5 separate regions of the Homo sapiens genome follow, and all the other regions are linked to region 5. Evidence: fine-mapped expression QTL. A gene starts in region 5. Each other region holds a variant in brackets. All regions are shown on one strand. Distances are between the middles of the regions.

Region 1 (5,108 bases), 30 kb before region 5:
TCACCAAAAGTTGGCCCAGGACTCCAGAAACTAAATGATTAGAGATTTGATTTTCTCGTCTCCATCTATTAATATATTTAGAAAAGCACTTTACTTGATAACAGAAGATTAGATGAATTGTGATTTGTCTCCTGCCCCCAAAATATCTTTGGGCATCCTAGTCTCTGTGACTGAGGGTAAGCAGCTCCAATACTCCCCTGCCCCAGGGACAAAGGGGACTCATCTGGGTCCCATGACTTGTGCTCTCCCATCTACACATCTTGTGAACATTCCTGTGTGAACATGTGCTCTCTTATGACATCCTCCTTATGTCTTGGTTCTTGGTTGGTGTATTAGTCTGTTCTCATGCTGCTAATAAAGACATACCCAAGACTGGGTAATTTATAAAGAAAAAGAAGTTTAATGGACTCAGTTCCACATAGCTGGGGAGGCCTCACAATCATGGTGGAAGGTAAAGGAGGAGCAAAGCCATGTCTTACATGGTGGCAGGCAAGAGAGAATGAGCCCAGTGAAAGGGAAACCCCTTGTAAAACCATCAGATTTCATGAGACTCATTCACCACCATGAGAACAGTACAGGGGAAACTTCCACCATGATTCAGTTACATCCCCTGGGTCCCTCCTACATACGTGGCAATTATGGGAGCTATGATTCAAGCCGAGATTTGGGTGGGGACACAGCCAAACCATATCAACTGGCATTATGGGTTAAATGAGTTTATCATCTCTCAAATAATAATGGTAATAAGAAGACAACAACTTTAAAAAGTGAATCAAACACATTGACCTGGAAGTAGCCCTTGGCTCCCTTTACTTCAAAACTGAAATTTCTTCTGTGGAATATGCTGTCCCACTTGAGAGAAGATTGCAGTGTGTTTAGCAGAGATAAAGATGCTTTCTCTTCTCAGCTTCAATAGGGAGTCTCTCAGGAATTTAACAGGTTATTGGTTCAATCGAAAGCTTCAGTGAGTAAATTGACTCTTCTTTCAATCCAGACACCCGACTGGTGATGTAGTTCGCCAGCCTGTTGTGTGTCAGGCAGGCCCACCTTTGTATTAACCCCTTTGAGGTATGCTTTCTGGCTCCTGTGGAGGTACATGACTCTGGGTATGTCTAGCCATGCTTACCGAGATTCATTTATAATCTTAGCATTGGTGTATCAGAAAACTTGTTTTAACTGGTTTATACTTTTGAGGGTATTTGTGGTATTATCATTTTTAAACATACTTGTGTTCATATTTATGTTCAAAGAGTCAACCCCATGCAGGATGAATGGAGTAAACCTAACACATAATTAATATGCATTTTAATTTCAACTATAATGCCATGATTTTTCTCTAAAGCAGAACTTGAAACATTGAATGGCATGCTTATTTGTTTATTCCTAAGCAAAATACTTAAATGTCTTAAGTTTTTTTGTATCTCACTCACATTACTTGATATCTAATTTGACTCAATTGAATACAGGAAAAAATGGAGATATGTATGTGTATATATATATATGTGTGTGTGTGTGTGTGTGTGTATATATATATATATATATAATTTCACAGAAAAAAATACAGTCAACTAGTCCAGCAAATAACATATCTAAATATTGAAAAGCATATTTTAAACCAGTAAATGACAGAATTAAGAGACATTGAATATCTAGAATAAGGACTACAAGGAAGAAAATATTAGGAAACACCAAATTTGCTTTCTAAACCTCTTGACACTTAACTTTTAAAGAAGAATAGAAATAAAGAGACATTTTCTGTTTGCAGCCTCAGATTTTGTTTAAAATTATATTGTACAATGGTGATGACTACACCATTTGGCTCCATCTGAAGAAAGAACATGATTGAGTGAGCAAGTTTTGACATTTGAAAATCAACATTGTTTACATTTAAGAAAATTCACTATAGATTGTTTTTAATGAGTTTAAAGAGGTCTATAAAGACTTAAGTAAACTGTATTCTATGTTCATATTACTTCTCTTCAATTATATTTTCCCAAAAGTTCAATAAGT[G/A]TAAACATGCTAAATGAAGCCATATGTCCAAAGCAGACAACAATCTTAACTCTCATTTGCATTATACTTAAGTTCAAAGCATTTCCCCACTTAAAATGATTTTAAAACAAAAAGGTGAACACTTGATAGGTTCATAATTGGGAAATAAGTTATCAATAGAGTAACAAATTTGTGAATTTATACCCAGAATACACAAAGAAAGGAAACACATAAAAATATTTTACCCAGGTAATCTATTGAATTTCTAATGTAAAATAGGGTATTAAATCTTGTGTACAACAAGATACATTATGGATATAGATATGTGACCTCAGAATTTAAAAAAATTCAAAACAAGCAAAGATACGGAATCAACCTTAATGCCCATCACCAAATGAATGGATAAAGGAAATGTGGTATATATACACAATGGAATACCATTCAGCCATAAAAAGGATGGAATCCTGTCATTTGTGACAACATGGATGAGCCTGGAGGACATTGTTAAGTTAGATAAGCCAGGCACAGATAGACAAATATTGTATCATCTCACTTGTATGTAGAACCTAAAAAAATTTGATTTCATAGAAGTTGAGTAGAATAGTGGTTACCAGAGACTGGGAGAAGGGGGAGAGGGGAGATGAAGAGAGGTTGGTCAATGAGTGCAATGTTACAGTTAGATAGGAGGAATAAGTTCTGATACCATATTGCACAGTAGGGGTACCACAGCTAACAATAATGTATTTTATATCTCAAATAGCTAGAAGAGAGGATTTTTTTAGTGTTCTTGCAATAAAGAAACAATAAATTGGTGATGGATATGCTAATTACCACGGTTTGATCATTACACAATGTATGCATGTATTGAAACCTCACATTGTACCCCATAAATATGTGCAATTACTATGTGTCAATAAAAATAAATTTAAAAAATTCATAGCAGAATGATGTTGTTCAGTTAGGGACTGAGTTCCTTGTTTATATTTTTGCCCTTCACACTTTACATTCAAAAAGTATTTATTGAGTGAGTAATATGTAGGCAGGCAATACATATTTATTTTTTCCATTTGGAGATGGCAGCGGAGTGTGTATGATGCATATAGTGTCTCAGGCACTCATATTCCAGGACCCACAGTTTAGGAGATAGAGCTAGGAGTGAAGATATGTTGGATGCCATATGAGTAGGTATATGGAGCTACCATCCCTTGGAGTAGGAAATTAACTCTTTTATCCTATATTTCAAAAGATATCCTAAGAAATTAACATAATGAGTTCCTCTCAGGCTTCTGTGTGGAGGAAGCAGGGGCCCAGAGGGATAAATACTCAGTTATTTGCATGTAAGGGCATAGGGTCCTACTTGTCTCTAGTATTGTCTTGTAGACTTCCCTTTTCACTTGCAATACTCTACCCCTTCCACAACTTTACTATCTCCAGTGGTATATGAATAAAGAGAATCAGCCCAAATTCATGTTCATCACTCAAGTTTAGGGATTCTCTAAAGGTTAGCACAGTCTTCTCCTCCTCACCTTCCACTGAGACCTGAGTCTCTTTGTCTTCTCAGTGGCTGTTGTCCCTGTGACCTCAAAACAACTGCTTATTACTCTATTATCTGTATATACATTCTTGCATTAATTACTATTAAATTAATGTAATTCAGATTTCCTAGAAGACAATAGCCTGAATACCTACTGGAATAGCATATGCAGGCACAGGTGTCCTGGGAAACTTGTCTCCAAGAAAATTACATGTACTTAGGTTTTTACAAACTCAGCAAAATGGGTTCCATGTGCTGAGAAGATACAAGCTTGCCAGCTCCGTCTCAGGGCTGCAGGTTAGAAGGACGGATGAAAGGCAGGCTCATCTCTGCTCCTTCCCTGCCTCCAAGCAGGTTCACATACATGCTGCTGTTTGCCCCTGTACACACCCTGAAAAACTTTCTCCCTAGTGAATTGCAGACTCTAAACTCATTTCAGAGTTGGTCTCAATAAAATAACATATGTCTATCTCGAAGAAAGGAGAATTTAGTATTTTCACATGTAACTGTGAATTGTAAAAACTATTAACTGTTCTATTTAACTTGAAAATAACAATAGTAGTGGCCTCATCATTAGAATACACTATAAAAATTGGTACATGTTTTCTTCTTAAATTTTCTATATTATGAAAAACATCCTGGAAAACTACAAATGTATTCAATTTGGTACGTAGACCATGGATTTCAAGTGATTTTTGAATGTTTCATTGCTCTGCCACCCTGACAGCTGAATTCATCCCAAAGCACCAAGCATTTTCTGTGTAACTGGCAGGGTTCAGTTGCCGTGTGGAGATCTGACTGGTCGGCCAAATGATAGTCTCATGGCATATTTAAAACATCCATATGTTCTTGGAACCAGAAATAACCTCCTCCTCCATACTGGTGTCCAAGTAAGTATCTCCTAGCAGTATTTTTTTTTTTTTTTTTTTTTTGAGATGGAGTCTTACTCTGTCGCCCAAGCTGGAGTGCAGTGGCGCGATCTCGGCTCACTGCAAGCTCCACCTCCCGGGTTCACGCCATTCTCCTGCCTCAGCCTCCCGAGTAGCTGGGACTACAGGCCCCTGCCACCACGCCTGGCTAATTTTTTGTGTTTTTAGTAGAGACAGGGTTTCACCGTGTTAGCCAGGATGGTCTCGATCTCCTGACCTTGTGATCTGCCTGCCTCGGCCTCCCAAAGTGCTGGGATTACAGGCGTGAGCCACTGTGCCCGACCCTCCTAGTAGTATTTCTAAGGGCAATATTGTTTAAATTAACTATTCCTTTGTATTCCTTTGATAAAAGAAATGGCCATGCTTTGATTAGTATTGTGTTGGCACAACAAAAATCTGTAAGAGAAGAGGAAGGAATAGTTCTAATAAGATCACATTCTTGTTATTTGGAAACTAGCATTATTCTCCACTTTCATATTTATAATAGCAAGCACACCTCTCTAGTGAAGAATAACCAATGAACATACTGTTTTGTGGAATTAAACTAACATAAAAAGACTATTTTTGGCTAAAGAAGAATACAATTCTTAAAAAGCTTGTATTAATTTTTCCTTCTGAAGTTTTCCAATGTTACATTGCATATACGTCTAATTTTT
Region 2 (5,108 bases), 440 kb after region 5:
TACTAAGTGAATGAATGAATGAATGAATGAACTAATGATAAATTTGTGAGCTAGCCTCTCAAGTAACAGCTTTAGCTATGTTTTTTTCTCATCAATATAAATATTTCCACTACTTCATAGTGACTGGATGTCCACTGCATACCAAGCATCATTGTAGGAATCATGGAGAATCATAAAAGAGGGTCCCTGAATTCAATACGCATTTACTGTGCCTTGTATTTTTTCCATATGCCTGGCATTTTGCAGGTTGTGGAAGAAAAAAATACATACATACTGTTTATTAAAGCAAGAGGAGAAACAGAAGCCTAACAAAAATTACAGTATTACTAATTCTTAGTTTTGAGGCTCTCTTCATTTTACCCTGTAAGTCAGTAAATGTCTTCTTAACATTTGCTAATCCCTGAATTAGTATAGAGCAATATGTATGTTAGAGATGTGTGTGTGTGTGTGTGTGTGTGTATTTCAAAAAACTAAAGGACTGGAAATGAAAGCAACGTATTCAACATTAGAATAAAAGAAAGAAGAAAAAATTAGGATTCTGGCTCTTACAACGCAGTCCCTTCCTTAATCTTTCAATCCCCATGTTGACCCAGGTCAAAATGGCCCATTTACTCTCTTCCATGTGCCACGGCATCCCCAAAGTCAGGACTGTTGTCCCCACTACTAAGGTCTGAAATGCCCATGCTGCTCCTCTCTTCTTCATCCTTTGGCCCAGCTATGTCCACAAAAAACGTCAGGCTGGGTTTTTTCAGGTTGGTTATTTCTTCCTTTGTGGAACACTTAGTGCTAAATCCTTCTATTTCCACTTAATGACCGACCTCTGCTGACTCACCGACACTTGAGAAAGAGCTCTCAAGCCTCATGGTGTGTGGTTCTATCATCATCTGTGCCTCAAAGTGCCTCAGAAATTCTAATTTCAGGGTCATGACATATTGCGTTACACCAATCCTTCAGAGTTTTCTGTGTCCTGTGGTTCTCAAGTTACACAATTGCGAGGACCACTGGTTGAACTTTTAGTCTATATACGTCTTGCTTCTGCAAATAGATCATAACCTCCTTGTAAGCAAGAACCAGGTATCTTTTTACATCTCGCTGTGTTTAACACAATGTTAGAAACAGACCAAATGCTCAAAATATTTGTGACTTATTTATTTCATTGAGAGGTAAACAATAATAAATGACTCACTGATTTTTAATTTGGGACAGTTGAATACATTTATTAGTCTGGAAGCATTTCACACTAAGATCCTCTTATGCCTAAGGTTAGGCAACTTTGACAGCCGCATTGATTTTTAATATTCTATCAGCCAGTCAATCAGCAACTTTTCCTAAACACCTACTAGTGTTACTAGCCAATTTTCTAGAGAATTATTTACTTTAGTAAATTACGGTTAGAATAAAATAAACATGGTATTTCCTGATATTCTGAAGAACACAAACTTACCAGGTATGAATACATAAGCCTCAGAAATTTTATTTATATAATCAATAAATACAAAATATTTACCTATGAATTGATATAAATAGCTATTTTATAAATTATCATAGTTTCTAAGACCTTAGTAATTATGCAGTTTTAGCCAAATTTTATAATATTTTAAAGTTCAAGCTAGTCCCCAAACTTTACATAAAAAATTCATTCAGTGGTAGATCTGTTTGTACCAGATGCTATGTGAGAGTTATTCACAAATACTCAGAAGTCAACTTCCAAGAAAAACCTTAAATTACCTAAAAACTTAAGAAAAAAAATGGTAGCAATTTGCCAGTAAGCCCTCCGATGATCTTTGATATCTTTAAATCAGAAGAGTTTCTATACCCTTTCCCTTTCAGAATTTTAGAGATTTTAGAAAGTCTTTGCCCCAAAATGTCATTAAAATGTTATCATTTTCTACATATTCCATTATGTTAAAAAAGGTTGAAAAGCATTGCTCTACCCTAATACTATAATAGAATTAGAAAATTATATAAATAGTTACATCAGAAAATATCAATATGAAAATAAAATTATGCCTCTCTCACACTGGTGAAGTCTGTATCAGCTAGGACATTTTATGGTACAATATCGAGAACTTTTTAAAATAGGGTTAGGGGAACATATTGGCTCATGAAATTGATAAATTGAGAGATGGAGTAACTTTAGGCAAGGCTTGATTTAGTACCAAAAATAAGGTTTTCTTCTGTGCTTATGCTCTGTATTTCACTGCAGTACTTTCATTCTTAAACTCCACACATTCGTCTCCCAGCAACCACAGGTGCTCCCAGAATGTCCAGAGCATCCCCAGACCTCACATCTTCACACTACCTCCCTCAGCTGCTTATTCAGATAGTTTATGCTGATCGTTTGGTATTCCAAGGATACACACACATGCACACACACACGTGTACACGTATATATAATAAATATATATAAATTTACATATATAATTTATATATATAAAGATATATATATATCTCTTATTTCCAAGATGTCAATTAGACAGTAGAATAAACTTGGAGATGAAGACTAGAATTTTCTTTAAAATGAAATGGAACGTATTTTAAAATACCAAGGGCATCACATCCAGTAACGATAAAATTACAAAATTTTTGTTTCACTGTGAATGTGTATGTGTGAGTATATATTTACTGGATCAAACAGAAAAAAAGCTTCCTACTAGAGTCAAAAGTTTATTAGGGTTGGGCATGACAGCTCACGCCTGTAACCCCAACTCTTTGTGAGTCTGAGGCAAGATGATCACTTGAGGCCAGGAATTTGAGACTAGCCTGGGCAACATACCGAGACACCGTCTCTACAAAAAGAAATTAAAAATTAACCAGGTGTGATGGTGCATTCCTGTAGTCCTAGCTACTTTGGAGGCTGAGATGGAAGAATTGTTTGAGCCCAGGAGGTCGAGGCTGCATGAACCATAACCACTGCACTCCAGCCTAGGCAACAGAGTGAGACCCTGTTTCAA[G/A]AAAAAAAAAAATAGTTTATGTGATTGAACATACTTAGCCACTGCTCCAAGTGCTGGAGAGCAATCGTGAGCAACTTATAAAGCCATGAAACAGCATGATAAAATGTGTAAGTTATTCAAATGCACTGGTAAAACCAAAGAATAGGGCAGGAGCCCTGGAACTGATAGATAAGAATGGAGAACATAGAAGCCAGACAAAGGCTCTTATCTTAGAGGTAATGGGAGCCACACAAAGGTTTGGTTTTAAGCAGGTGAATAAGCACTGTAGATTGATAGATTTCTCAGGCAGCAGTGGAGAGAATGAATTGGAGGGCAATAGTGTGAGTTAAAAGACCAGTTAATAGCAGAAAGACTAATTCAGTGGTCCAAGCAAAAGATGTTGAGGGTATGATGTGTTAGGAAGTTATCATGAGAGGTAGAGTCCACAGAGCTTTATGAATCATCAAATATAAGGACTGAAAGAGAAAAAAGAATACAAGACAACATACAAGCCTCAGTATGGAGTGACTGGGAAGACAGTGTTCTAATCACTAAGATGGGTTCACATCTAAAGGCAAAAGATTTTGAAGTAGAGATGAGTAACAAATTTAGTTTTTACTATGCTTACTTAACATCTGAATAGGACATTCAGATTAATGTGTTGTTAATAGCACAAATGAACTCAGAACCGAGTTTCCGGTTGGGATCCAGACAGCAGGCAACCATCAACAATGTGACAGGAGAAGAATATGTAAGAAGAGGACTAGGGACAAAAGACTACAGGTCACTCACATCATAGGGGTAGGCAGAGGGAAATGAGTCTGCAAAGGAGAACAAAGGAAATGGTCAAAGAGATGGACAGAATGGGATTCAACTAAATACCTACAGAGAGATCAAATTGTATGAGAGCTGGAAAGAATCCACTGGATTTGGCAACAAAGAGGTTATTTGGTGATAATTTGCAGTGCCATGGTCAGGAGCTTTATTACAATGGGTTGAATGGTAATATGAAGGTGTGTATTTGGAGACAGTAAACACAGGGGATTTGTGTGTCACTGTGTGAGTATGTGTGTGTTTTAGGAGCTTCAGTGCAAAAACAAGCAATGAAAAGAGGCTGTTAAGACAATGGGAGGGTTGTTTTATTTCATTTGTTTTGGGGTTTTTCTTTATTATGTGAGAGAAATGTAGCCATGTTTATAGGTTGGGAAGAAGAAGCTGCTAGAGAAAAACAAATTGAAAGACAGGAGAAAATGAAAAGAAAAGAGAGCACATGGTTCCATAAGAGATGTAGTGCCACAGGTTCCAAAGAGCACATGGTTCCATAGGTGACATGGTCCCATAGGTTCCAAGGAGCACATGGTTCCATAGGTGACTTGGTTCCATAGGTTCCAAAGAACACATGGTTCCATAGGAGACATGGTTCCACAGGTTCCAAGGAGCACATGGTTCCATAGGAGACATGGTTCCACAGGTTACAAAGAGCACATGGTTTCATAGGAGACATGGTTCCATAGGTTTCAAGGAGCACATGGTTCCATATGTGACATGGTTCCATAGGAGACTTATGCTTTTGGATCTAAAGCCCAAGTGGAGGTCTGTCTGAACCAGCACTATTCTGTCAAACTTTCTGCAAAGATAAAAATGTTCTCCATGCCATCCAAACAATAACCGTTAGCTGTACATGGCTACTGAGTATTTGAAATGCAACCAGTACAACTGAAAAACTGAATTTTAACATTGGTTAATTTAAATGAAATAGCCCTATGTGGCTAGTGGCTGTAGAACTGAACACTGCAGCTCAAACTAAAGAAGCGAATAGGAAGCTGAGAGCCCATCAATCCTGGAGACAAAGGCTGGAGGTTTTCACACCTGGTAGTCTCATGTAGAAAGGAAGGCTGATCAGCAGGGAGGCAGAGGAAGGGTTGACAGGGTAGGACCTTGGAGGGAAGCAGTTAGGCTTGGAAGGGACACAAAGGAAAGGATGGCAAAGAACTGACCAGAGCAACTAAAAGCACAACATAGTAGAACCGAGGACACATCTGAGACTAGAGACCACAAATGTATGGCAGACACTATAGGAACAACTAAGGCAGGCACTGGCTTGAAGAAAGGTCATGAGGCCAAAGGCCAGAAGTGTAACAAGGGGCTGTTGGCATAAAACAGTATGCCATGGAG
Region 3 (5,108 bases), 69 kb after region 5:
CAGGGTAGGTGCTGGTGAAGAGAGATCAGCAGGTAGGCACAGTTTTGTCAAAGATCTCATTCTTTCAGTCACTGAAGGGAAATATACATTTCCCCTAAGATTTTCTTGCCTCAAATTCTGAAACATTTTCTTCGTTCTAAGTTCTAGGGAATTCTGCAACACATAGAATTTTTTGGTATTATCTCTGTACCCAGTCACTTGGTCTTAGGTTCTCTATGTCTCATCCCACTCTGTATAGCTCAAGTTAAGTAGAATAAGATGCCACCAAGTGTAGATTCTTTGAATCGTTTCATTACTTTCTACATTGTAAAAAATGAATATATAAAATGGGTTCCTGATATTTAAGATTTTTTCAATCATATTGTGTCCTTTGCATCAAATTCTATCCCCCCAGCTCTGCCCTCAGGCAGCTACAGAGTGGATAGAAACGCTTTCCTCTCTCATCAAAATAATGAAGACATTTGCTGAGAGCTGATTAGGAGGTGTGCATAAATTGGGAAAGGTTTTAGGATAGCCACTTCAGGGAGCTGAACAGAATGCAGAGCAAAACCAAAGAAAGATTGACGTTCTGAGGCAAAAGTGTGAGTTATGAACTTTGAAGTCTCATGCGAATACTTGTATAAAGTTTATCTCCAGTGTCCTTAGTGGAGGATGAGAAGGAGCAGATGACAGGAGTGATTCACCATTTGAGCATTTGGGTCAGTTGTGAGTGCTGGTGAGTGATGAGTTCAGTGACCTTCCAGGAGAAAATGGCTGGCTGAGCAACTGGAAAAGTGTGAAAGAGCTAACAGGAAAGGAAAGAGGCACAGAAAGAGAATTTCAGAGGTAGTGTACTCATGGGCAGGGTGTGACAATGGGATTCAGTAGCTGAAGTGGGATGCAGTATAGTGGAGATAATCAAGAAACTAAGAGGCAAATGAATTTAATGATTCAGCCTCATTGATGTTGGCTTCATGGAAAGGGTAGTATTCATTTTATTTCAATTCAATAAATAGTTATTAAGCACTCTTTGTGCTGCAGGGGCTATGTGAGGCATATTTGACCTGGATAAAGTGCGTAAGAAGAGATGATGAGATTAGGAAAAACGGTCGTTGTCAAGGTCAGCTTTATGGTCAGTGTTAATTTCCACCTTGGTTTTGGCTACTCTTGAGCAACTGTTTATTGTTGTTCTCTGCTTTTCTTGCTAAGATATCTCAAGTGTATCTGAAAGCTCCCGTTACTTGATCTAATGGAAGAGACTGTTTTCCTCTTTCAGGTTGAAGTCTTTCCCTTTCTGTCTGTGTTCTGGTTTCTGGGCTGTTCCTTTAATACACACAGTAGTTAATAAATAACCCACGGCTGCCAGGCCCTCCTTGCCTGGTCTGTTTTGCCATCAGAAGGTAAGCTCACGGGCCTGTCACCATTCTGGGTCTGTACACCCCACCTTTGTACAAGAATGTGGGATCAATAACATAGTTTGATGTCATCAGGGGAATTTCCATGTTTGTGTCTTGCCTCCACTTCCATATGCACTGCTTTGTATTTCTTTTTATTTATTTCTTCTGCCATCATACAGCCAGGCTACAAGCAAGATTAAATTAAATGTTCATTCCAGTGTCAGGAATACCAATATATCTATATTCGTATACTTTCTATGGTCATGACTTTCTTTAATAATTCGTACAATTTTAATATTTTTGAATAGAGGCAACTCTTGGCATTCCCCCTGTGATTGTGATAATAATGTGAATGTGTGAAGTAACCAGAATAAGGAACACTTTTTAAATGCTACTCTGATACATTACAGGGTCAGTATTTTTTTTTTTTTTTTTTTTTGAGACGGAGTCTCACTCTGTAGCCCAGGCTGGAGTGCAGTGGGGCGATCTCAGCTCACTGCCAGCTCTGCCTCCCGGGTTCACGCCATTCTCCTGCCTCAGTCTCCCGAGTAGCTGGGACTACAGGTGCCCGCTACCACGCCTGGCTAATTTTTTGTATTTTTAGTAGAGACGG[G/A]GTTTCACCTTGTTAGCCAGGATGGTCTCGATCTCCTGACCTTGTGATCTGCCCGCCTCGGCCTCCCAAAGTGCTGGGATTACAGGCGTGAGCCACAGCGCCCGGCCCAGCCTCAGTATTTTTAATTAAAAAATGTATAACTCTGTCATCATTACAAGTAATATAATAATGCAAAAACAAAAGTCTTGTCTTTTCCGTGGACAGTTACCCAGCACATCAGAAAGTCGGGTTAATGCAGCATTCAGCCAACAAGCAGGAAGGGGCATGGAGCTCTGTGTGTGCCTCACTCTGCTTCCTCAGATGGTGCCTTGGCTAAAGAAGAATAGCATAACATAGTTTAAAACACAAGTTTGTTGACTGCTTAAAATGTTTGTAGAACTTGTTGTGGGAGCAGAAAATAACGAGCAGCCTCCATCAGGGGATTGGTAGCAGTGCCCTGGCTTGATCAGGCTTTGTAAGCATGGCGTGAAGCATTGTGGGAAATCCTATCCTGTGCTAAGCATTTGAGCCAATGGCCCTGTCCTGCACTGATCAAAGTACTCCCATTTCCTCAAGTTGTACCCTCCACTAAACAAGTTATGTCCATCCTTAAGGAACATTCTTGGTGTCTCACTTAATATCCCCATGGTGGTCTGAAAATTTCCTCTCTAGAAATTATTCTTCTATTTTTCAGGAGTTTGATAGTCAGGTAATTTTTTCTCCCATATTATCAGTTTCTTAATTTATATTTATCCTTACATGTCATTTCCAAGCACTTCTTTTTCTTTCTTTTTTTCCCTGTCTTTGCTCACATCCTTTCTATTTTGCCAAGGGCTTGCTTCTTCCAAGCCTTTTTATCCTCTCCTCCCGTGATCAGTACCCAAGTTTGCAGCAAGGTTCCTTGTTGTTTTATGGGTTGGTGTTTTTGCTTAGGAAATCCTCATGTTTTAGGCTGCACCCTCAATCTGTAATCTGAAGGTCAGATTACAGTTTAATTCTTCTTGAAGCCCTCATCAAGTTTCAAAGAGAAGCCTTGTTATTTGCCCTTTGTAAGAAGGAACACCTTGAAAGGCCATGGGTCTGTCTTCTCATCCTAGAGGCCAAGGGGCACTGGGACTGGAGTGGCAGGGAGGCCATGAGCCCCCTCCCCAGGTGTAAGACTCCCAGTCTGGCACTGCACCTCTGAGGGCATCTGCATGTGGTGGTCCCTGCTAGTGGCTTCCAGAAGTACCTTCTGGCATTGGCTCCTGAGGTCATCACCCTTGTTGATGACAGCTGTCGGCAACTTGCCTTACTGAAGCCTTTCATCCTCCCTCCCACCGGCAGCAACTTCCAGGGTCCTTGATGCATCTCCAACACGCTTCCTACAATAATGTGTAGCCGTAGGAAAGTACAGACTTTGGGGTCACACTAGCCTGGTTTAAAATCCCATCACCCTTTCCCAGCTGTGGTACTTTGGGCTTGTTGTCTAATCTCTGAGTTTCAGTAAATCTGTAAGATAAGGATTATAACATCTTTCTTATAGATTTGTTGTAAATATTAAATGAAATACATAGAATGATTCATATGTGGCTAGTAGATAGTAGGTCTAAATAAAAGACAGATGTTATTATTATTCCAGGGATAAATTGGTAGCTTTGCAGTTTGGTGTTAGTTTTAGCACTTCCTATGAAGACAAAAAAAAAAGCACTTGCTCTTAAAAGTTTCTTTCAAGCTGTTTATTTGAAGCTCCCCAAAGTCAAGCACCACCCAGCATCACACACCCTTCACTCCCTCTTCCTCTACTTCAATGAAGGCCACTAGTTTCTGAAACTGTCGTGACAGTAACCAACTCTCCTTTGCCCTAATGGCTTCTTCCCAAGATCTACCTTACAGAGCTCAGTACAACCTTAAGGTTCTGCCTGAATTTATGAGGTATTTAGCAAAAATCTCACATGTGCCTGAATATTTTACTGTTGACATCTTAGCAGTGCCCTGTCCCCCTTGGAGGACCGAGGAACCCAAAAACGTCAAGTCTCAGACAGAAGCTCAAACTAGACATAAAAATGAAATTCTTATAGAAATTCTGGGTTTTACTTCTGTGCAATCATTGTTACTATGCAACCATGCTTGAACGATAACTACCCTTTTCAAGCAAAATAGAAAAGTTTCTGCCTTCAGGCCACACGACCTTTTAGAGACAAAACAAGTGCAAACAAAACCGTGTGCAATGTTTTTTCCATGAATGTGATGTTGAAAATGTACCTGAGGCTTAGGTGTGGCATGACTCGCTATGTAACACAGAAGAAAACTGGATTTAAAAACTGGAATTTCTTGGCTGCCCATTCAGACACGACCCACTACATACCATTTCCCCCCTTGCTTAGATTTCCCTACAGAAAAGAGAAAAACTGTGGAGAAAATGGAAAACAAAGCCATAGGAGAAAAGAGCTGAAAACACTTCATGTAAATGTGCATGCTGAAAGTAGAGAGCAAGCAAGGATTTTAAAATGCGGTGCCTGAATTTGAGTAGTTAGGACTAAACACAGAAGTGTTGATGAACTCTAAGGCTAAACTCTTGGATATTTAGCAACACGCCAGGGCTACTTTATCAGCTGAACAAAGATTCCAAGAACTCTGAGGGGAAAGAAAAAAGAACCCTGTAACTCAGCGGTCTCCAGCCTTTTTGGTAACAGGGAACTGGTTTCATGGAAGACAGTTTTTCCACGGACTGGAGGATGGGGGAGATGGTTTTGAGATGAAACTGTTCCACCTCAGATCATCAGGCATTAGTTAGAATCTCATAAAGAGCACGCAGCCTAGATCTCTCACATGCACAGTTAGTTCATAATAAGATTCGCACTCCTATGAGAACCTAATGCCACTGCTGATCTGACAGGAGGTGGATCTCAGGAGGTAATGTGAGTGTTGGGGAGCAGCCATAAATACAGATGAAGCTTTGCTCACTTGCCCACTGCTCACCTCCTGCTGTGCGGCCTAGTTCCTAACAGGCCACGGACCAGTACTGGATTGGGGACCCCTGCTCTAACTGATGCAACACCTACAGCCCACCTACACCAAGTACAAGGCTCCATTTGGTCTGCATATAGAATCTCTGGGATGCTAGGGTGTGCTTCACTCATTCTGAGTTGATTCCTAGG
Region 4 (5,108 bases), 77 kb after region 5:
CGAAATTATCAACAGAAGTAACTCCAAGTTATTATTTTATATTGACTCATGCAATTTTTCAGCAAATACTGAGCTCCAACTATGTGCCAGATCTGTGCTTGAGGATATAGAGTGAGTGAAAAACAGATGCTGTTCTCACCCTTACAGAAATTATAGCCCAATGTGAAAAAGAAACAATCAATTTTTCATAGCAATCATATGAAATTATATGTATGCCAATTGGTCCAAAGAAGATACCTAACACTATGAGAGTATTTAATTGGTGACCTAATCCAGCCAGGAGTGTGTATTGGTGGGGATGGGCTAAAAAGTCTTCATTAAAGAATCAAACTGTTCATCTGGGTGACTGGAGATGCTGAAGGGTTAGGGTGCAGTGAAGAAAGATGCTGATGAACCTGCAGAGGAAGGCTGAAGCAGACCATCTAAGATCTTGTAGGACCCATTAAGGATTTTTACCCTGAAGACAATGAGAAGCAATTGAAGAGTTTGATACAGTGGAGTCAAATATTGAGATCTGTATTTTGAAAAGACCACTCTGGCTGCAGCAGCATGAATAATAGATTTTGAAGAGAGGACACGTGGTATGATATTTAAAGAGTGATGTTTCTATAAAAGTAGGTGTCAAGCTATTCTATTTGTGAGCAAGCCAATAAAGTATCTTTTTTTACCCTAAAGTAATTAATAGGAAATAGTTTCTCTCTGAATTCACTTTAATTTCCACCCACCAATTATATCCCATACTCTGAACCATGAATCTATGTTAAAAGTTTAAAACTTTCATAAACCAAGCAAAATAACCTATTAATAAATTCTAAAAGTTAGATTTTCCGTGAAATCATATGTGACTATAAAACATAAAAATTGTCATCACAATAACAATGGGATTAATTATTGAATATGTCTTATATTGCAACTTTTAAAAATTTTTTACATTTTTGATTTTAAATTATTAATAGAATAAATATTCTATACAATGTATAATACTTCTCCAATTGGAAATTCTATGTGAACTACTTCTTCCTTTTAGTCTTTATTACAAAAGTAGAAGGCTTAATTTATTTGCCTTCTCTGTTGTCAATTAAGTTGACTTTCTCATAGTTTCAATGTAAAAATGAAACATAAGCTTATTTTCCTAACAGGTTAATAGAGAACTCAGGATTTTTAGTACTTTCTATTTTTATTCATGTACATAATTAGACCAAATTTTAGATTATAGTAATTTTATTTTTATAAATATAACATAATACGAATTTGTTTCCAGAAAAGTTTTTTAATAATCATTTTATATGTGCTTAAGAAATTATTACTTTATTTACTAGATTATCTATTAATGCTCCAAACAGCTAATGCAACTAATGAACCTAACTATACAAAATGCAACTGGAATTTCTACTTATATTTTTTCCCTGTCAAACTTATAAGGAAGTAGATGCCAAAAATATAAAATACAAAACAAAATTTTGCAAGATATGTCCAGAGAAAATTCTAAGGTCAGTATAGATATTCTACATTATCATGCTTATTTGTATCTGCACTGATAATAACACAAAAGGAGAATTGATTTTTATGATTTATTTGTTTAACAATTGATTGAAACCCTGGTAGATGTGTGACCACTGTACGTGTGACTAGCTGCCATTTATTGAGCACCTCATTTGTGCCAAACACTGTTCTTAGAACTTGGTGTTTAAGCCACACATCACACTTATGAGGTAGTAGTGCTACTATTATGGCCATTTTCCATACTGGAAAACTGAAGCACAGATTAGGTAACTTTATGTCTTCATCTGTTCTGTGCTGCTATAAGAGAATACCACAGACTGGGTAATTTATAATGAACAGAAATTTATTCCTCACAGTTCTGGATGCTGAGAAGTACAAGTACAAGGTACTGGCATCTGATGAGGGCCTTCTTACGGGTCATAACATGGCAGTAGGCTTCACATGGTGGAAGGGTAAAGACAGCAAGAGAGAACAAAGCCACTTCTGAAATAATGGCATTAATCGATTCACAGGGGCCAAGCCCTCATGACCTAGACACCTCTTAAAGCTCTCACCATTCAATATCATCACAATGGCCATTAATTTTCAACAACATTCAAACCTACTTTTTGGA[G/A]GAGATAGACATTTAACCATAGCATTTGCCCCAGGTGACATAACTCATATGCAGCAGAGCTGGGATTTGCATCCAGGTTGGTCAGCTCCAGAGTCAGTGTCCTTAATTGTCACATCACAGTGCTTCCTTGTGATGACCCTGAATATCTGAAGAAGCTGGAGTCAACAAACACATAGCAAATATTTTATGTTCACAATTACAAACTCATGAAGCAGGAAAGTAAAGCTTGGATTTTTTTCCAAGGCTGTTAGGGAGGTTGAGAGGTAAGAATTTCCTGGGATAATTATTGAAATACTTAATTTTAACAACTTATTACATCTGAAAAAAATTAAAAGTAATGGATATCTTCTAAGTATGTGTGTGTGTGTGTGTGTGTGTGTGTGTGTGTTTGTGAGTGAAGGGTATATAACATGCAATGAGGAATATTTGATATAGAGACCTTGTGTTTAAAAATGATTGACTAGAAATAGATTAAGCTGATTGATTTAAATGAGACAAGAAAGGAAACTGAGGGGAAGGAATCAATCTGTTAGTTACTGCAGAAGGAAGTCAATTAATTTCCAAGTTAATGAAATGAATTTATGAAATGTTTGGGGCTCATACTCTCCCTCCCTGTAATGAATATTTCATAACGACAAGTGTGTCTTATTCATCTCTCATCCCCACAATGCCTAATGGAGTGCCATTTACATAATGGATTCTTAATGACTGTGTGTTGATTGAATGGCTGTTGAATGAAGAAGAAAATGGTGACAAACTTTAAAGAAATAAAGTGAATCTTTAGTAGTTTTTTTCTTCAGCAGATGGTTTCTAAACTAAGGAGGTTTTACCTCAAAGTAAATGTTATTGAACTTCATCTCGAAACAATATAAAATAAAAGTTTTATTAAGTTATTTATTCTATATTCTAATGAATGACTTTAGAATCTTCATTCTGTCTTCATGTTAGATAATTGTGGAATATAACAGCCAGATAACGGAAACATTTCTCTTGTAGTATGCTGTGTGAGTCCACAAAGGTTGCAGGCAATATGGCTACTCATCTTTTAACTCTTGTTTGTGAAACTGAATGTTGTCTGCCACTAATCTCTGCTTGAATCCCTTTCCCTCATGACAGTTTATGGAAAATAAATAAACCTATTTCAACAGAATATGAAAACTTTAAAAAATTCAAACCAAGAATTTTCTTGGGAATGAAAACATTTTAAGAACCAAAAATCACTTTAATTATGTGCTTTTGTTCTAGGCTTAATAGATAATTCTGGACTGAGGTTATTTTACACAATGGATATAAGGAAATATGATGCTGGGGTGATTGAGGCTGGCCTCTGGGTGAGCCTCTTCCATACCATCCCTCCAGGGATGCCTGAGTTCCAGTCTGAGGGTCACTGCACTTTGGAGTGCCTGGAAGAGGTATGCAGCATCTGAGTCTGAGCTGCTCTCTGCAGATTCATCAATGCTCTTAGAAACTGTGGTGTGAAAAATTCCGCACATGTTTATTATCGATTCCTTTCTTGTTGACACACTGTGAAACCCTTATCGCAATTTTAGTAGGACTTTTGACTGCTTTTTTAAATCTTGAAGCTACAGGAGTAGAACTCTAAAGACAGAAGTAGTTGGCAGGGTGTTTTTCTTCTTACTCCTACCTTTTTTGTTTGTTGCATGTTGCATGCTGTATATCATCTTTTACAATTTCAACCTTTGTTTGTGTAGTCTTTTTCTTTTCTCTAGTTTACCTTTTATCCATATTGATTTTTCCATCATTTATTTTCATTTTTCTCTGCCTTATAGTTTCCTTCCCTTTCTTCACCACAGAGCAAAAATAACTAATATAAAAAAATATATAGGATAGAAGAAAAGTATATTTAGTAATGACAATTTTCACTTCAAGTTTTTTAATGAAAATATTTCAACATGGATCATACTCTTTATGAATTATATGATATTGTGGTTGAGGACAGTATGGCAGACTGGTGAAGTGGAAAGATTATGCTCTTCTGAGTTATTTAGGCCATAGTTCATAATTCAAATTGCCATGACCTCATTTACAAGCTGTAGGACCATGGGCGATTCATTTAATTCCATTGACCCACTTTCGCTTTCTTATCTGGAAAAGTGGGAATAATATTTCCTTTTAAGAATTTGGGTTTTCAGGTTACTAACATACTGGAATCTTTTTGCTAAGAATGTTTATTGCCTCTTATCCTCCTAAAAGAAGGAAAAAGGAGGATAACATGTAGAAATGGTCTGGGAGGCCCCTTATAAGCATCAGCTCCCCTACTTTTCTCCCGGCAAATGTTGCTTCACAAGGAGAACACTGAACAATCCGAATTCAAACTCTTTTTCAGTTCAAGCATTCATTTAAATTGCTTTAGCTTTTTATCTCAGTTGTCCCTCCAAGTGTGTTTGAATGTAAACTGTCTGAACATGCATTAATGTGGGCTAATCGGGTCTTCCTCGGTGTCTCCTGTAGGCTCTGGAAGCCGAAAAGCCAAGTGGAATTCATGTGTTTGCTGTTCTTCTCCATGCTCACCTGGCTGGCAGAGGCATCAGGCTGCGTCATTTTCGAAAAGGGAAGGAAATGAAATTACTTGCCTATGATGATGATTTTGACTTCAATTTCCAGGAGTTTCAGTATCTAAAGGAAGAACAAACAATCTTACCAGTATGCATGTTTTTGTTCTTTTTCATTGACTGTTATGAAAGTCATGAGACATATCTGCTGAGATGTGGCAAGGTTTCTACTAGTGAAATGAATTTTTCCTTGCATCTGTATTCTTAACACCACCCACTGTGGGTGTTGTACAACCCAGATGGAATGTGTTTGATCTGTTTTCCAAAATTGAAACTCATTTTTCTTATAATTCCCAGGAGCAATTCAAGTTGTTGACTGAAAAATAAAAACAACCCCAAACAAAAATCTCAGGTTCTGAGGACTAAACATTACTCTTTTTTTATACTTGACATTCCAGTTAGTGATTCTTTGGGTTGCA
Region 5 (5,108 bases):
AATGCAGAACACTCAATTACATCTGGGGCCAAGGTTTCCCCCACAGAACAACTTTGTTACGAGGATGCTTACAGGAGCATCTGGGCATGCATCTGTTCACTCGTCCTACAAGTATTCATTAAGCACCTATTGCAAGATGTCCACATTCTAGGCAATGAGAAACCAGACATGGTTCCTGACCTAAAGAGGCTACTGGAGGAAAACAAGCCTGTAGACAGAAAGTACACTGAAGTGTCAGGGGTGCCATATGGGGTCTGGCAGAACATTCCATGGGGACTACCGTGGATAGTATCCACAGATAGGATGCTATCTTACAGTGAAGTGTGAGAAGGAGGACAAGAAAATACTTCAAAGGAAGGAAGGCAGAAGTGACAAACCCTGCGAATAGGCACAGTGATGCAAAATAGCACGGCTCTCCATTGAGGATTCCAGAGGGATTTTTCATGTGGTCTACAGGCCGATGGGTGAGTGAGATGGGAGTGATGGAAGGTAAAGCTAAAACAGTTAATGGGGGAAGAATTCTGGAAGGCATGACCTCTTTTTGTTTCATTAAGGAGACAAAATGTCCTAATAGATGTGAATTTGGGGTTTATATAACGAACCCCAGGAAGCAGATGTAGCAATGTGCTTGTTCCAGGTTCCTCCACACTAGGAATAAAAGTAGGGTCACAAAACAGAAAGTTTGCCTTTAGTCACTCTGCAGTAATTTAACTTCCCTGAAATCCCTGCCCAGGATAGTGAGAGGATAGTGAGTGTGTCCCACCCGGTGCCATGAGCCACTCCTCTGGGACTCCATTCCCCCTATTTTGTTCCTCTTTCTCTCCATATCCCCCTTCCTTTCTTCATGGCTGAAGCCACGTCCCTGGTATGGTGCTTGTAAAAACCCAATTCTAAGGTTGCCACCCTTACATTGCTGTATGGCTGTTACTGCCCTTGACATTTGCCCAGTGGGTCCTGGTGGAGGTGAGGCACCAGCTACTTATATTTCATAGTCTCCATGCCCAGTTCTTGTAAGGCTTTGCAGGCTCTTTTATTTCTCATTTTATTTTGCGGTTCCAACATCACTCTTCTCTGATGCTGGCCTATTGCCATTGGCCAGCCCTGCGGACCTTGATCCAATCTCTCCTTGGGAAAAGTCCCTTCCCAGGCAAGTCCCTGAGCACTTTGGTAAGCAGATCCACCTACAGGTCACCTTCCAGACATGATCAAATATTCCCGTATCCTTAGAAGAATATAAATTAGATGCATGACGGTAACTTTGGAAAAGTTATGGGAAAAGATAGGCAGGGGGAAAAACAGGCTGAAATACGAGGTGAGGAGAGAGAATGAGGAGTGTAGGGTGGCTAGTGTGGAGCTTGCTCTTCTTACCCATATTTCTCATCTGATATTCTCTCTTATTTGTTTTTCTATTTTGCATTGTTTGTATTTTTATAAAGACAAAATTTCGAACTTTTTTGGAAACTTGGCAGATCATAAATAAAGGAATAAATAAGCAAGGTAAATTTTAGTGGCCATATTTGTATTTAGCATTCTAAAGACAGGAGTGGTCAAAGGTAGAGGCAAAACCAAAACAAAACAAACTTTTGACAAACATGGTTATGGCCAGAACTTGGAATAGCAAGAAAAGAGAATGTTAAATTAAAATATAACTCTCAAATGACAATTCACCCCTTACCTTCTCTGCTGATGGCAAAGTAGTTTGGCTGACTTTGTCCCATCAACGCCAAACCAAACCAAACAAAAACTAGGTGAAGGCAAGCGTCAGGGCTCCAACTCCTGCCGTGAGGAGCAAGCTCTGCGGCCCCGCAGGGTGGGAGGGTGAGAGAAATTCTCGAGGTGGGGGGCTGGGGAAAGTGAAGTGTGTCCCTCCATTGCAATAGGGACGTCACTGGGAACAAAGGCTCTGGAAAGTCGACAGCAACGGATACGGAGACGTGAAGGTTACCCTGGACGGGCCTTTCTGTGCATCGCACCCCAGACTACCCCCTTTGCTCACTCAATTCCTCCTCTCCAGGCTAAACTTGCTCTCTGCCGTCAATGTCCATTCTTTCCCTGGTAACCTCTCGCCCACGTCCCGCAGAGCCCACGCTCTTCCCGCTCTAGGATTCTCTTGCCCTCCTCCTTTTCCCTCTGCCTCTGGCCTCCTTTTCTCCTCTCTCGGCGTCTGCCTCCTCCTGCCTCCTCCTCCCTTTCTTTCCGGGAAGCCCCTCGCTTTCCTTCCCACCGAGCCCCGACCTCGGGGACCAAGTCAGGGGTCGGGGGCTGCAAGTGGATCCGCTGGAAGGGCCGGGCAGGGTGAGAGTTGGCGGGGCTGGGACCCGACGGGACGGAACGGGACGGGACCGGACGGGACGCGGCGCGCCCTGCAGGCGGCCCGGGGCGGGGAGAGCGGGTCCTGCCCCTCCCGGGCGGGCGCGCGGCCGGCCCGAGGGGCGGTCCCTGGGCTCCCGCTCGCCGCCGCTGCCGCTCCTCGTTCTGCTCCTCACTCCCCAGCGGCTGGAGGCCGGTACCGGCGGGCAGGAGGCGCCCGAGGATGTGCTGCTGGCCGCTGCTCCTGCTGTGGGGGCTGCTCCCCGGGACGGCGGCGGGGGGCTCGGGCCGAACCTATCCGCACCGGACCCTCCTGGACTCGGAGGGCAAGTACTGGCTGGGCTGGAGCCAGCGGGGCAGCCAGATCGCCTTCCGCCTCCAGGTGCGCACTGCAGGCTACGTGGGCTTCGGCTTCTCGCCCACCGGGGCCATGGCGTCCGCCGACATCGTCGTGGGCGGGGTGGCCCACGGGCGGCCCTACCTCCAGGTAAGCGCGTCTCCTCCCGGAGCCCGCCCGGCCGAGCCCGGTCCCGTCCGGACCCCAGAGAGGGCGCAGGTGCGGGTCGTCCCCGGGGCCCGCAGCTCTCTCTCACCTGGCGCAGCCCCGCGCCCCCGGCCACGCTCACTCTCGCCTCCGCGGGCAGCGCCTGCTCTCCCGGAGCCCCAGAAGGCGCGCGGTAGGGAAGCCGAGCACGGATGACCCCAGGCAGGTTTCCTTCTTTGAACACTTTCCTGTCCCCAGCGCCCCACTTAATAGACGCCCCCCCGCCTACACACCTGCAATACACCCCGCTTCATCCCTGATGGGAAGGGAGAAGGACCTAGGCTTTGGCTTTGGGGACCTAATGGGACAGCTCTCAGAGGAGGGAAGGGACAGAGCGCTTTAGTACGTCGCGGACTTGCTGTCTAGGAGTGGAAATCTCAGAACTTCCCAAATCGTGGCTATTTGGGAGCCTCCAGGCGCGGGGCTGATGTCAGCTACACCATTCTCCAGAAGAATGAAGGGCCCCTAAGAATCGCTTAGGGACTTTCCTATTCCGAGAGCTGTTCAGGAAGCCACATTTAGAGACCAAAATCGAAGGTCCCCAGGCAAAATATCCTATGAAGTGACAAAACTTTGGCTTACTTTAATAACCAATAAAGTTAATTTGACCGCTGCTGATTTACTTTGAAGGAGCCTAAGTAACCACCTTGCCTGTTCATGGGTGCTTTACTAAATAGAAAGAAAAAAAAAAAGGAAGAAGAAGATTGTGAGATGACCAGAATGATTAGGTGGCTAGGTTTCCTGGACATCCTTGCTTGATCGTGACCAACGTTTGGATGGCGGTGAACGTACACGCTTTGTTATTATAAAAATTCATCCGAACATACTGCCCTTTGCTAAAAGTCTTGATCCAGATGAAAACTCCGAATTGTTCTGGCATTGCATTAAGGCTTTGATAGTATTTAAATCAGTGTTCTCCGTGGATTTAGAGTGCGCTTCTTAGTAATTTTATCCCCAGGTTCTTTTCGACTGAAATATGCCATCAAACTTGAACGCTGATTCTGGCACTGAGCTGTTAACTCTGGAAGGAAATAAAGTGACAACAATAAAAAGTTCAAAACCACTCTATTATCTATTTTTTCATAAATTAATCGTTTCTTCCCCCAAATAAGTAACTTTACAACTCCAATAAAATAAAGTTTTATGAGGATTGCATTCTGCTGAAGTCACTGATGTATAAATATTCTCCTCCTGCAGCATCTCAGACATTAACTTTATGAACCAAGTATTTGACCACAAATGCAGGCCTCACTAGGGGAATGACTCATTCTCCTGTAATATAAAGTAGACAATACCTTATTTAAATACCTATTTAACGTTTTTTAAAAAAGAAATTTTACCGTTTAGGGAGAGGAGTATAGTATGCCCCTTAACTATCCTTGCATGTTCTACAAAAGGGAGCATAACTCTTACTATGCTAATATTATAAAATGGGACATACTTTGAATGTTAACTCCATATTATTTTCCCTCAAAGAGTAGCATTTCTAGAAAGCCCAGCCAATTGTATGTCAAATGAAAAGCCGTGAGTAGAATTCTGATTCAACATGCCATAATAGGCCCACCACAAAGATAAACTTGGTTAAACTACAGTGTTTTCACCCTGTTTGTGGTTCTTCATAGAGATTGCATAGGACTTAGTTAAGTACTCTTTAGATTGATTTTGAAACATAGAAATTTTCTTAAAGTAATTAGTGAATACACATCACTATGAGATAAATTATGACTGGCTGCATTCTCAATACATTTAATGAGCAATAAATAGGACTTCCCGTCCATTTTTATTCCTAAGGAAATAAAATCATTTTTACATGTAAAGGATGATCGTTTTCTTACTTGGCTGACATATTTTACCTTCCATTTCCATAAACATTCTACTCATTTTAGGACATATAAAATGCATTAAAATTATGCTATTCAATTAAATGGAAAGACAGTTAACTTAAAATCTGTTTAATAAGATGAAATACACCAAATAATATAAATGAAATAAATGTATCAATTTCAGTTTTATTATTCAGGCTGAATGATTCCATTCTCCAACGCTCGAAATTCAGTCTCCTCTCTAGAAACTATTTATTTAAGGTTCTTCATACACTAGTGTGAGAAGAGTATTTTCAGCAACTATACCAAAAAGTGAATAGGATTCTCTTTTTTTTTTTTTTTTTTTTGACAAAGTCTCTCTTTATTGCCCAGGCTAGATTGCACTGGTGCAATCTCGGCTCACTGCAACCTCACCTCTCAGGTTCAAGTGA

What was found. PIP is the estimated chance that this variant, and not a neighbour inherited with it, causes the effect.
Region 1: its variant is the best candidate, but not a certain one, in a credible set for the expression of MOXD1 in gastroesophageal junction (GTEx, PIP 0.85).
Region 2: its variant is the best candidate, but not a certain one, in a credible set for the expression of MOXD1 in sigmoid colon (GTEx, PIP 0.53).
Region 3: its variant is the best candidate, but not a certain one, in a credible set for the expression of MOXD1 in sun-exposed skin (GTEx, PIP 0.77).
Region 4: its variant is the best candidate, but not a certain one, in a credible set for the expression of MOXD1 in unexposed skin (GTEx, PIP 0.87).

What each region holds. Positions count from the first base shown.
Region 1 is chr6:132,428,959-132,434,066 of GRCh38, reverse strand. No RefSeq gene overlaps it. Among named protein-coding and RNA genes, the nearest start is that of MOXD1, 30 kb to the right of the region's middle. The variant G/A (reference allele first, on the strand shown) is at 2,011.
Region 2 is chr6:131,962,418-131,967,525 of GRCh38, reverse strand. All of the region lies in intron 2 of CCN2-AS1 (CCN2 antisense RNA 1), which reads right to left. Among named protein-coding and RNA genes, the nearest start is that of CCN2, 14 kb to the right of the region's middle. The variant G/A (reference allele first, on the strand shown) is at 2,955.
Region 3 is chr6:132,330,043-132,335,150 of GRCh38, reverse strand. The region is part of intron 4 of MOXD1 (monooxygenase DBH like 1); the gene reads left to right. Among named protein-coding and RNA genes, the nearest start is that of MOXD1, 69 kb to the left of the region's middle. The variant G/A (reference allele first, on the strand shown) is at 1,990.
Region 4 is chr6:132,322,351-132,327,458 of GRCh38, reverse strand. It overlaps MOXD1 (monooxygenase DBH like 1), which reads left to right. Exons shown (of 12, transcript NM_015529.4): 7 at 3,362-3,528; 8 at 4,589-4,780. Among named protein-coding and RNA genes, the nearest start is that of MOXD1, 77 kb to the left of the region's middle. The variant G/A (reference allele first, on the strand shown) is at 2,117.
Region 5 is chr6:132,398,852-132,403,959 of GRCh38, reverse strand. MOXD1 (monooxygenase DBH like 1) reads left to right here and starts at 2,485. Exons shown (of 12, transcript NM_015529.4): 1 at 2,485-2,797. The coding sequence starts at 2,534. RefSeq lists silencers at 2,272-2,411, 2,432-2,601, 2,732-2,781.